3 separate regions of the Homo sapiens genome follow, and regions 1 and 2 are each linked to region 3. Evidence: fine-mapped expression QTL. A gene starts in region 3. Each other region holds a variant in brackets. All regions are shown on one strand. Distances are from middle to middle. Region 1 overlaps NDUFAF5 (NADH:ubiquinone oxidoreductase complex assembly factor 5). Region 2 overlaps NDUFAF5 (NADH:ubiquinone oxidoreductase complex assembly factor 5). Region 3 holds the start of NDUFAF5 (NADH:ubiquinone oxidoreductase complex assembly factor 5).

What was found. PIP is the estimated chance that this variant, and not a neighbour inherited with it, causes the effect.
Region 1: its variant is the best candidate, but not a certain one, in a credible set for the expression of NDUFAF5 in cerebellar hemisphere (GTEx, PIP 0.55).
Region 2: its variant is the best candidate, but not a certain one, in a credible set for the expression of NDUFAF5 in visceral fat (GTEx, PIP 0.54).

The regions. Positions count from the first base shown.
Region 1 is chr20:13,821,212-13,825,345 of GRCh38, forward strand. NDUFAF5 (NADH:ubiquinone oxidoreductase complex assembly factor 5) reads left to right here. Exons shown (of 11, transcript NM_024120.5): 11 at 1-369. Among named protein-coding and RNA genes, the nearest start is that of NDUFAF5, 38 kb to the left of the region's middle. The variant T/C (reference allele first, on the strand shown) is at 2,244.
Region 2 is chr20:13,809,469-13,813,602 of GRCh38, forward strand. The region is part of intron 8 of NDUFAF5 (NADH:ubiquinone oxidoreductase complex assembly factor 5); the gene reads left to right. Among named protein-coding and RNA genes, the nearest start is that of NDUFAF5, 27 kb to the left of the region's middle. The variant T/C (reference allele first, on the strand shown) is at 1,877.
Region 3 is chr20:13,782,649-13,786,782 of GRCh38, forward strand. NDUFAF5 (NADH:ubiquinone oxidoreductase complex assembly factor 5) reads left to right here and starts at 2,380. Exons shown (of 11, transcript NM_024120.5): 1 at 2,380-2,642. The coding sequence starts at 2,421. It overlaps ESF1 (ESF1 nucleolar pre-rRNA processing protein), which reads right to left and starts at 2,271. Exons shown (of 14, transcript NM_001276380.2): 1 at 2,232-2,271; 2 at 1-535. The coding sequence starts at 492. RefSeq lists enhancers at 2,316-2,605, 2,601-3,290.

The DNA.
Region 1 (4,134 bases), 39 kb after region 3:
AGGCTGAGTTTAGTGATTCCCTTCCAACAAATAGATGGTGTGTCACTTCTGAGACTAGGTAATAAAAGGCATTGCATCCTCCTTACTCTCTCTTGGATCCTTCACTCTAGGGAAAGCCAGCAGCCATATTGTAAGGCCACTCAACTCCATGGAGAAGACCTAGAAGTGAGGAGCAGAGGCCTCCAGCCAAAAGCCATGTGAGGGAGCCATCTTGGAAGCAATTCTCCAGGCCCAAACTTCAGATGACTGTGGTCCCAGCCAATGCATTGACCACAACCTCATGAGAGACCCTGAGCTAGAACCACCTAGCTAAGCCACTCTCAAATATCTTATCTACAGAAACTGAGATGATAAATGTTTGTGGTTTAAGCAACTGTGTTTTAGAGTAATTTGTTACACAGCAATAGATAACTGATACGCGATACACTGTCTTCAGGAGGTGTATTAGGGTGGGCAAGGTATTCTGAGTTGTTATTTTCAGCATAAAACATAGCCCCCTTATTTACAATTAGGTAAAGTTAACATAAACTGTATTACTTTTGTTCTCAGAGAACACCAGACCTGAAATGCTCTTGCCTGGAGGTTTGATTCCATGATATCTTGAAATGGAACTAACTTCCCACATTAAGTTTAGTAGGCCTCAAATTTTCTTTCCTGGGAATATTAGGATAAATTTTTTGGAAGCCTCGATGGGCTAATTTCCAAATGAAATCAGAGAATTTGGGAAGACCATGAGAATTCAGTGAGCTACATAACTGCACACAGATTCTTCAGCCAGTTCCCTTCTGCCGTAGCTGTTGAGTTGCGACAGCTCATTAGGATGGACTGTTGACACTGCATACTTGTTACCAGGCTCACAAATGAGTACAAGGATGTGGAAATAACAAGGACTCTTTAAAGCCAGACTTGATCGTACATTGTTAGTCACTGCTAAAACCAGGCAAAAGTAAATTGCCTGCACTTTGAAAGTGGCCATTGTAACCCGGCCAGTGTCTAGACTCTTCATTCAGGAATCACACGTTTGGCCAGGATGCCCGTTGCTAGTTCTGTCAGAACAGGTCTGGTGGTAGAATATCAGGAACACTTACCAGGTGTACTGTTTTTGTGCTCAGAGTGTTTGTGCTCAGATTGTGAGTGGGAGATTGGGAAGAGGAGAATTCCAAAGAAAGACTTGCCAGTCTGCCATAAAAAACTATGGAAGTCAAAGAAAGGTCGGGGACTGGGAGTCAGGTGGTCTGGGTTTAGTGCTGGTCCTGTTTGTTCCTAATGCTGGGGCAGACTCCATCTCTCTGACCTCAATATCTTCATCTGTAAAATTACAGGTTTGCTAATTGGTGAGTCTCAAAGGAGGCTACCAGCCTGCCTTTCACGTTCCTGAAGGGCTTTTTCAAACACTTCCACCTTTCTCTCCTTGGTTGAGAGTCACAGCCAGAGGGAGCTCATGTTAGAGGTGGGAAATGGTTGCGAGCCATTGGACAGGATGATCTCAGAGGAGCTTTTCAGCCTGACCCCAGAACCTGGGTCCCAAGGCAAAGTGGACAGGAAGCCCTCCCATCTTTACAGTTTCTCAGACTCTGTTGACCTTGGGGACTTCTTTTCCCTTCAAAGTAGACTTTGACTTCCCCTGAGGATAAGATTTAAGAAGGAAGCACAGCATGATTTACTTTGGGTCCCTTAATCTTTAAAAAGTGAGTCAGCATGCTGGGGTTTTTTGGGTTTTTTTGTTTTTGTTTTTACTCCTGGGCTTAAGCTCCCAAGGAGCTGGGCTTACAGGCATGTGCCACGATGCCCAGCTCAATAATGCATTTTGTTGTTGTTGTTTGAGACAGTCTTGTTCTCTCGCCCAGGCTGGAGTGCGGTGGTGCCACTTCGGCTCACTGCAACCGCCGCCTCCCGGGTTCAAGTGATTCTCCTGCCTCATCCTCCCAAGTAGCTGGGATTATAGGCCTGCATCACCATGCCTGGCTAATTTTTGTATTTTTAGTAGAGACAGGGTTTCACCACATTGGCCAGGCTGGTTTCAAATTCCTGACCTCAGGTGATCTGCCTGCCTTGGCCTCCCAAAGTGCTGGGATTACAGGCGTGAGCCACCGTGCCTCGCCAAAGAATGCATTTTCATTTTTAAGTTTCTGGGTCACAAAGGAGGGCCCCAGACCCTTATATGTCCAGCATGGATAGCCTTCTATATTTTCCATGGAAGATGACATTTTCTCATAGGCACCAAGCATTCAGCATTTGGGAAG[T/C]GTCCCTTAGTTTTGCACAAAGTTCCCAGTTACTTGTCTAGGTGACAAGTCCTGGCTGCAGAACAGGAAATGCTCAGGCTTCAGGTGGCAGCACTCTGGAGGGCCAAGTGAAGAAATAGATACGAAAGTACTGGTTGTCCATGTAATTTCCTGAGGAGCCAGCTGAACACTCATGGTTCTCCACAAAGGAGGCTTCTTTGAACCTGTACACAGTTGTTACGGATTGGTAAAGCCCTCTTGAAGGCGCCCTTACTGTGCTCTCACCAGGCAGTGTGCTAAGCCTTAGATATCCATTCTCAATTCACATTTCATCCTCAGTTCCCTATGAGATATTAGTACTATTGTCCCCATTTGTTAGATGAGGAAACAGGCTTAGGTTGTGACTTCTCCAAGGTCACATAAGTGACAGAGACAATTTTGACTTCAGTCTTGTATGTGAAGGGAACAGTACAATTAATGATTGTAGTGTGCTGCCTTCTTTGCAAGTCAAAACCTTCTGTGAGCTCCCAGCCTTTCTTCACATCCTCCCTTCCACCATACCCTTGAACACTCCAGCCGCATATTAGAACCAGTCAGGTGATTGCACCCACTGTCTCCAACACTTGCTCAGCCCCGTCCTTGAATCCTTGTCCCTGCAGAACTGCCTGCACTCCAAACTCTTCTGGGTCCCTTCTACTGGGAGCTGTCACCCTTCATATCCAGCTCTTTTTTTGTCCCAGGCCATCTTGAACTTTGGTTAGTTCCATCTCCTTTAGCACTTTGTACATCATTTCCTGTTCATGAATTCTGCCTCTTCAGCTAACTGTTTAGCTTCCTTGAGCATTGGCACTGCAATAACCAGGGTTCCAACAGCCCCAGGGAAAGCCCAGATAGAGTCACTATGACCCCTGTGAGCACGGCACAGCAGGAGACCGGAAGAACAGGCAGCTAGCATCAGGCACGTTCAGCTGCAAATTCTAAGGATCAGCCACTCAATTGGGATTCAAAGCTAGACTCCTATCTCAGAGGAATCTGGGTCCCAAGGAAAAAGAGACATGCATGTGAATGATGGGGCAGAAATACAATTGCTGGGACTGAGAGACAGGGAAGGGCCTGACTTTAGAGAGTAAGCCTAGAACCATGATGTGAGGTCAAAGCAGGGCCTGCAGCGCAGCTGACGGCATTATGTCATGGGGCAGGGTAGATTCCCATCCAGACAAGATGTTCACCTATTATTAGATATAGGGTGGCCCAGTGGAGTAGTGGCTAAGATTAGCATGAGTTCTGAAGTCACACCCTCCCATTGGATCCCCTTTCTACCACTAACTAGCGTACCTGTGTTTAGTTACTCAACTGCTGTGAAATGAGAACCATTCTTCAAAGTATCAATATAACACTTAGCAGGTAAAGCATCACACTTCTTAGGCTTAGGAAGCCAAGCTCATTAGATGCCTTAAGTGTCTGGTACAATAACTCTTACATTTATAGGTGTTGCAAAAGAAGGTAGAGGTGGAGCACAGGAGATGGAGAGGAGAATTTCCAGAGGTAAATGTGGTTAGCAAAGCTGAGGTAAGCATGTGGATATCTTTCCTGTAAGGTTTCGCAGAACCTTTGATGTAATTCTGAATCTCCCAAAGCAGGCTAAATTTTAGGACATCTTCCAGACTTAATGGTCCAGTAACCCTTTTATCAAGGAGGATCAAGTAAGACCTTGAACTCGTTTGGGGAAACATTAGCCTAGCACAATGCTAGGCATTGTACAGGCTTGTTAAATAATTTGAATAATTCTCGAAAAATCTACATTCAGTTATCAGAATCTGTTCACCTGCAAAATTGTTTATGAACTTTCTCAAGGCAGTCAATGCAATGGTTAAGTACTGGCTATGTGGTCTTGGACAAGTTACTTGACCTC
Region 2 (4,134 bases), 27 kb after region 3:
CAAAGGCCCTCCTGTGAGAATGAACATAGCAAGAACTGAAAGAAGGGCATTTTGGCTGGTGTTCAGGGAGTAAGAAGGAGAGAGTTAAGTGATGACCTTGGTGGGTCAACGTGAGTCACAGATCAAATGCAGAAGTACTTTATAGGCCTTGTTAAAATTGTTTGCCCTTATCTTAAAATGCCCCTTGAGGCATCTTAGAGAGGTAACAGTATCAGACTTGGATTTTGAAAAGAGTAGATTGGCAGATAAACTAGTCACGAGATTAATTTCAGTATAGCTTGCTGAGAGATGATGGTAGTTTGTACTAAGGTGGTGGCAATGGAGATGAAGAGAAGCAGATTCATCCCAGAGATGTTTAGGAGATAAATTTTGCAGTTCCTGCTGGTGGATTGGCTGTGGGCAGATGAAGGAGAAAGACATTTGAAGCTTAATTGCTGAGTTTCTAGCTCACATAGAGAGATGGTGTCCTTCATTGATAGAAGAAACAATAGAAGAATACCAGGTGTGGGCAGGTACAGCCCTTGAGTTTACATTTGGATACATTGGGTTTGAAGTGCTTTTGAAATACCTAAGAGGTTATGTCAAGTAGGCAGTTGAGTATGTGGGTAGGTAGCTCAGAGGAAGCTACTGGCTTGGTTAAAAAGTTGGGAGTCAGTTGTGAATAGGTGGCATTCAAAGCGTTTGCCTAGGATAAGAACATGGAGTGAGCAGACAAAGTGGCTTGGTACTGAGGCTTTAGCAGGTGGGTAGTCGACGTCTGAGCCTACAAAGAGACTGAGAAGGAGTAGCCAGCAAGGTGTTCCAGAAAAACACCAGAAAAGTGTAGAATTGCCTGAACCAAAGGAAAGAAAGAATGTTTCAAAACAAAGGGAGCACTTAGCAGCGTTAAAAGCAAACTATGAACTGAAAAGGAAGTCCGCTAGATTTAGGAACAAGAAGGTTATTGGTGACCCTGGTGAGAGCTCTTTTGTTAGAGTGAGGAGAGTAGAAGAGGAGTAGGTTGAGGAGTAAGTGGAAAGTGAGGAACTGGAGATAGCAGATATGTGCTGTTCTTTCAAGAAGTCTGGTGGTGAAGAAGAGGTGAAGGATGGAAAGGTTACAGGTGTCAGAAGAGAGGAGAGGAATAGAAGTTGAGATGAGGTTGTTTTTTTTTTTCTAAGACTTGAATTTATTTAATTGCTGACTAGAAGAATCTAAGTGCTTTCCTAGAAGAGGTGACTCTAGAAGAGAGAGAAAAGATAATTGATGATGACAGGTGTCTGAGAAGGTGGGAAGGGTGCAATACAAAGGCCAGTGGAGGGGTTGACCTTGGTAAGGGGAGAGGCAAAGTTATAGCAGGAAGGGAGAAGAGGTAGCACCAAAGGATGTAGGTGTTTATGTTTGAAAACAAGAAGTTCCCATCTTGTGGGTCTATTTTTTTTGTCAAACTGGAAGTAATATATGCTAAGAATGAAAGGGTCAGAGTTTTGAGAAGTGAATGGAACCGTTTGAAATAGTCATTATAGGGAATGAGAAGGTGAACTGACCATCAACAGGAGGTGGCAGCTCAGGACCAGGCACGAAAATCGGATAGTTGAATTAGTTTGGGTTGGGGGTTTGCTAGTTAAAAGTGACAAAAAGACAAAGGTAAAAGATAATTCTAGGAGTATAATTGAGATAATAGGTTAAAGAATCTTAGCTGGAAGAAAAGGGAAGTGGGAACAAGAAAGAGTGAGCTGATAAATTGGGAGGAAAAAGAGGAGCTGAGCACAGGTGGTTCCAGTGTGGTCAGGGATGGTCACGGTTGAAGTTCCTGAACACACTGGAGGGACAGGAGGGTATGGTCAGAAAATGAGATGTTTGATGATTTTGGAAGTAAAGCAGTTACAAGTGATAA[T/C]GGTCTGGGACGTGTCTCAGGTATCAAGGCAGAGGTGGTGTGATGGAGTGGTTGATTAGAGATGAGATTTTAAAATCTTAACTTGCTGATTATTAACATGAAGTCACCCAGGATGGTGGCAGTACTGGAGTGTAGAGGAAAACTGAGCCAAGTGCCAAACCTTTCAGTGAATGAGGGGAGTGACTAGCCTGATGTCAGACAGCAAGCAGGAGTTAGGAGGAGCTAACAGCCTTCTGGTGTGGGGCCTCAGCAGGGTGAAGGTGTTTAATAGGGTAGGGAAGTAATGGCTTGGAAGAGGCTTCAAGGAGTAAGAAGGATACAGATCAAACTCTGAAAGAGGTTAGATATGCAAAATATATGCAAAAATAAACTATTACTTGAAAGGGATGCTGGAGAAGCAGTTTCCTTAAAAGAGAGCTTCAACTTGCGTCCTTTGTGGGAATTTGTGAGGTGGTTCTTTTATATATATAGACTGACATCAAAAATCATTTCGATGAATGGGGGAAGCAAGAGGGGTTAAAGGTATGTTCTGTGAATCCAGAACTACACTTACCTAGGGGAGCCTTCATCTGGATCCTGAAAAATTGTAAGATGATTTAAAGAAAGAGGATTATACAAATAAGTATCTAGTCTTTACTTACAGATTTATAGTCTTTTGTGAGCATTGTTGTTCTTGCTTGCTTAAGTTACGAGTGAGAATAATTAGGGCCAAAGAGAACAGTTACCTGTCAAGTGGCAGAATTAGCTGCCAAACTCATGCTTCTTGGCTCTGCCCTGGCACTGTCTGAACTGACCCTGTTCCTTCTTGTGTTGCCCATCTGTAACAAGGTTCATTTGACCTATCGTGCAGCCTCCTCTGAGTGTGGAGCTTCTGTCACTCTGCAAACGGAAAGATGCGTAGCTGAAATCTTACCATTGTCATCAGTTTTCATTCATTAATAGAGGGATTGGCAGCCTGTAGCATGCATGGCCAAGATAACAGAGGATCAGTAATAAGTCACACACACCCCTTCCCCAGCATACCCCAAGGACTTACCTGATGTAATCAAGGAGCCACTTTATCCAAAGGCTTGAGAGATGATGGTGGGCTGATGATATATCACTCGGGCTCTAATAATAAAAATGTTATTCAAATACAGCATTTATTTTTGTTCTGCTGTAGAATCTGTGTTCATGATTCATTTCAAGAAAGAAAAGAGAAACATACTAGAAATTAGACCTCTCTGTTGGAAAAAGTTACTTCCCACTGATTTCAACATATGAGCAGCACTTAACTCTGTGCTTAGTGCAATTCTCTGAGGTTTTTCTAATACCCTAATTTTACCGGTGAGCAAATTGAGGCATCGAGAAGTTAAGTATCTTGTCCATGGTCACACTGAATCTGTAGTTACAATTTGAATTCAGAGTCCTGTACTGCATATTTGATATGTATGTGATTCTTTAAATTCAGGTTAACATGTATATTCAGCGAAATGTATTAATCTTAAAGGTACAGCTGCTTGTATTTTAACCACCATCCTGAACAAAATATTGAACATTTTCAGTCTCCCAGAAGGTAGCCTTGTGCTCCTTCCAAATTGATAACCCCCTCTTTTCCTAAAGGTTTCTTGTTTGTTTGTTTTTCAGATGGAGTCTCACTCTGTCGCCTAGGCTAGAGTGCAGTGGCACAATCTTGGCTCACTGCAACCTCTGCCTCCTGGGTTCAAGTAATTCTCCTGCTTCAGCCTCCCTAGTAGCTGAGATTACAGGCATGTGCCACCACACCTGGCTAATTTTTGTATTTTTAGTAGAGACAGGGTTTCACCATGTTGGCCAGGCTGGTCTTGAACTCCTGACCTCAGGTGATCCACCCACCTTGGCCTCCCAAAGTGCTGGGATTACAGGTGTGAGTCTCCTAAAGGTTTTAAATAGACCGTATATTTTCAGAAACTATGGCCTAATACTTTCAGATGCTTTCGTAATGCTGCTTTTTCTTAACTGTAATGTCTGTTACAGAAATCAGATGTCTTAGTTTTTGATACATCTTATCCTTAGGAATATTAAGAGAAATTATTTACACTTATAAAATGATATTTAACAAAATAGATATAATCATTAACAGGTTGGTTTTATATACCTTCACTTAGCGTTTATTGAGCATCTACCCATGTGCCAACCACGGAGCCAGTGGTGGAAATACGTAGTTCCTGATCTCAGGGAGCTTATGTTGTACTAGGGAAGAAGAACGCAAAGATAGAGACAGACTCCTACATTCAACT
Region 3 (4,134 bases):
TTTTTGTGTAAATTCTTTGCTATCCTTCTTCGGACTTATGTTTGAATCTATCTTAAATTTACATGAGGTTTTCATTTTTTTAATTCCTATAGAATTATCTAAATCAGTTTTATTTTCAGAACCCTTGTGATTAGCCTTCTTGGTTTCTTTCTTTTTCTCAACTAGATTTTTTGAATCGATTTCTTTTTTAGTCTGGGTTTTTTTCTTCTTTATTTTCTTTTGACTCAATGCTTTGCTATCTTCACCAGAGAGATTGGAATCAGAATCTGAAAGGTCGTAAAAACGCTTCAAATCCTCTGTAGTGCTATGGCTAATGGGGCGCCCTCTTTTATCCACGGCATAGTTCAACTTGAACTTCTTGTCATGAAACATGGCTCGAAATCTCTTGTCAATTTTGACTTTTCGATCCTTTTCTGGCATTTCCCAAAATCTCGGGTCCTTTGCAACCCGTCTAAACCGCTGGTCACTCATTATTTCTTGTTTGGATGACATTTTTAATTCTTAATCTCGACCAAATGCTTGAAGAAAACAAATACTGAAAAATAAAACAAATGTTTTAATGGTAATAATGGTTAGTACAATAATTAAATGTTTTAAAACACATTCACAATATATTCTAAGTTAATATATTCTAAGTTAAGTGTACATAAAATAGAGGTAACAAGTCTAATTTCATCTCTCCAACGTATTCTGGGTCACATGCAAAAAAGCAGAAACATACCAAAATATCCTCTTTCCATGACAGATCATTTAGAGAAATAAACTTAAGGTAGACAAAGCAGAATCCCAGGGCTTTATGGAGGGGAACAAATGTTTATTCATCCATTGCTCTCACTTAGAATTTCTATTTGTATACCAGTATGTGTTACTAATTGAAGGCAAATGTAGTTAAGATTCCCTAGGCCGAGTGCGGTGGCTCACCAGCACTTTCGGAGGCCAAGGCGGGCGGATCACTTGAGCCCAGGAGTTCAGGACCAGCCTGGGTAACATGGTGAATCCCCACAAGAAATACAAAAATGAGCCCGGCATGGTGGCGCGCGCCTGTAGTCCCAGCTACTTTGGAGGCTAAGGCAAGAGGATCACTTCCACCCGGGAGGTCTTGGCTAGAGTGAGCCTAACGGCACTACAGCACACCAGCTGGGGCAACAGAGTGAGACCCTGTCTACCAAAAAAAAGTAAGAAAGAAAGATTCCCTAGCCTCCGTTGGCCTCATTTGTTTCTTCACATTCTGGTCTCATTCTGCTTACTCCTTATCTCCGGCTACTGCCAACAAACAGCCTTTAGTTCTGTAAGACTAGCATTCTAACTAAACAGACCAAAATCAACTCAGGTTTAGCTAAGAAAGTTTCCTTTTTAAATTCGATCATCCTTCAAAAGTAATAAAAAGTTTAAAAATAAAAAGTAAATTTGAGTCTCCAGGTAAAGTCTCACACCAGTTAATAAATATCACTTCTTTCTATAATATCTGATTCTACCAGTGATGAAGGCCCAAGTGAGCTCATTCCCCCAAAACATACTAGAACATATACATATGTGTGTATAAATTAATATTGTTCCCTTGTGAAAAGTCTCCAATGGTTTAGCATCTCTGGATGGGAATTTTGCAAAGAGCCAAAAGTCGTTGATTATTAAGCAACCCCCCCCCAAAATGATTAAAAGGGCAATATTTCTTATTTAAAAATCAAGTCCTTTTAATTACACTAACTAGGAAAAAAAAGGAAGCTATCGCTGGTGCATTTACACATTTTTCGATGTATTACAGCACTTAACTCTCTGAGCAATCTTACGAGGTAGGTACCACCTCAACCAGGAGAAGTACTGCATGTATTGTAAATGTTTAGAAGGAAAGCACTCATTATATGTCAGATAATCCGAGAGAGGGGAAGGCGACCGGACCTCACTCCCGACACGCGCCCGCATCCCCGTAGCCCACCCTCCCCTTCTGCCCGCTCTCTAATTCGGAGAACACAGGGCTGGCCCCTGAACTAGGGTCTCCTTTCCACCTCCTGTACCGCAGGGGGGCAGCTAACAGACTGATTCGAGAAGCGACCCTGAAAAGGATCGATGAAGACTGAAGAATGAGACCGAAAAAGGCTCAGGAGGAAGGGGCAAAACCCCTCGCAGATCCGAAAGAGATCCTGTTAGAGACTAGTTTTTTCCCCGCGCCACACACACACACGCCCTCAAGCCCTTCATCTCGAGCTCTTCAACTCCAGTCCATCCCCACTCACCGTCCGCAGTCCTACCAAGCCTCACGTGGGGCTCACACCCACAATCCTCCGCGTGACGCTCCGCCGTAATGGCAAGCGAACTAGGCCAAACTACTTGCACGTTCCCTCGAGAAGATCTTTGGAGTAGACACAAAAGCCGCGCTGGCGCATGCGCACAAAAAGCGCCGGCAATTGGGGTCGCAGCTGGAGATGCTGCGGCCGGCAGGGCTCTGGCGCTTATGTCGGCGACCTTGGGCGGCGAGGGTCCCAGCGGAGAATCTTGGCCGTAGGGAAGTCACCTCTGGTGTCTCTCCCCGCGGTAGCACCTCGCCCAGAACCCTGAATATTTTCGACCGGGATTTGAAAAGGAAACAGAAGAACTGGGCAGCCCGGCAGCCCGAGCCGACCAAATTTGACTACCTGAAGGAGGAGGTGAGCCCGCGGGGCGGCGGGGCGGCGGGGCGGGCGACGCGGAGGCTTGTTTTCCTCTCCGCTAGTTCCGGCTAGGCCCCGAGCTCACCCCACCTAGCCGTCTGACCTTGACCAGCAGCCCTGCCTCTTTCGGCCTCTACTGTAATCACGCAAGGCCTGGCCTCGGATATTTGTAACATGCTTTCATTCATTCATGCATTCATTTCGGCAACGTCCTTGAGGCTGAAAGGACCTTATAGAGGCCTCCAGTGAAGCTCCGGAGAGGGAGAGAGTGGGAGAGAAGGTTAGGAGGACCCAAATCATCAGGGCCTTGCAGGATAGGGACTTGGGGTTTTCTTCTGTATCTGCACTGTCCAGCCAGTATGGTAACTGCCGGCCACACATGTGGCTGTTGAACACTTGAAAGGTGACTAGTCCAATTGAGATGTGTTGTAAAATACACACGAGTATAGTGACTTAGTATGAAAAAAGGATGTAAAATAGCTCATTAAGAGCTTTTATATTGATTACATGTTGCAGTGATTATTTTTGATATATTGGGTCACATGAAATATATTAAATATAAATTTAAATTTTTCAATTAAAATTTCTCTCGTTTTTACTTTTTTTCTTATGTGGCTACTAGAAAATTTGAAATTACATATGTGGCTCTCATGATTTTTGGTCAGCACTGCTCTAGGGGAATGTGAAGCTCTTGTTTTAATCAGTGGAGTGATCTGACTTATGTTTTAGGAAGATCAAATTAAGATTTCTGATTTGTCTTGGCTCGTTTGAGAAACCTTTCTCCCTGCCCAGGTGAGCCAGAGACTGAGGGTTTCTACTTTCAGGACACGCATTCTCAAGTTCAGGCCTCAGTAAATTTTTATTCAGGAGTGGAACAAAGTTGGAGTCAAGTATAATGCAACAAACAGTTATTGAACTCATAGCTTGAGCAGAGCTCTGTGCAAGTACAGGTCTGATCAGATGATTGACAGGGTGTCTTTCTCAGGAAGTCTTAGGCTGGTAATGTCTATTATAGGAAGTTTACTACCAATAAATTTTTTGTGTCTCACTTGTAAGGCATGGTGCACGTACTACACTGCTGATGTCGTGTACTTAGAAGATGTGCGCTCATAGCCCTTTCCCTCCAAAGAAAGCACCTGGACTACAACTTGATTGAGGCCTCGCCAATTTGTGAGACTAGAACAAATAAGATAAAGTATATGAGAGTTCTTTTTATAATAAACATAGGGTGTTCATATTAGGAATGACGTACAAGGTGGACTCCTGGGAAAAACATCTACGCTCCCTTCTCCCTTGCCCTTCTCTCAAAAAGCAGGTACATCTGTGTTTGGAACTTTTAAGTCCTAAGAGCAACTCTGGGGTGTTTATGAGGGAATGAGTGGAATGTGGGGAATACTAGACTCCCACGTCTTTATTGCTACCAGATGAAGCTAGGCCAGCAAAAGGTGGTGCTTACCTTATGACTCTTAAATTGGGATGGGATTGGAGC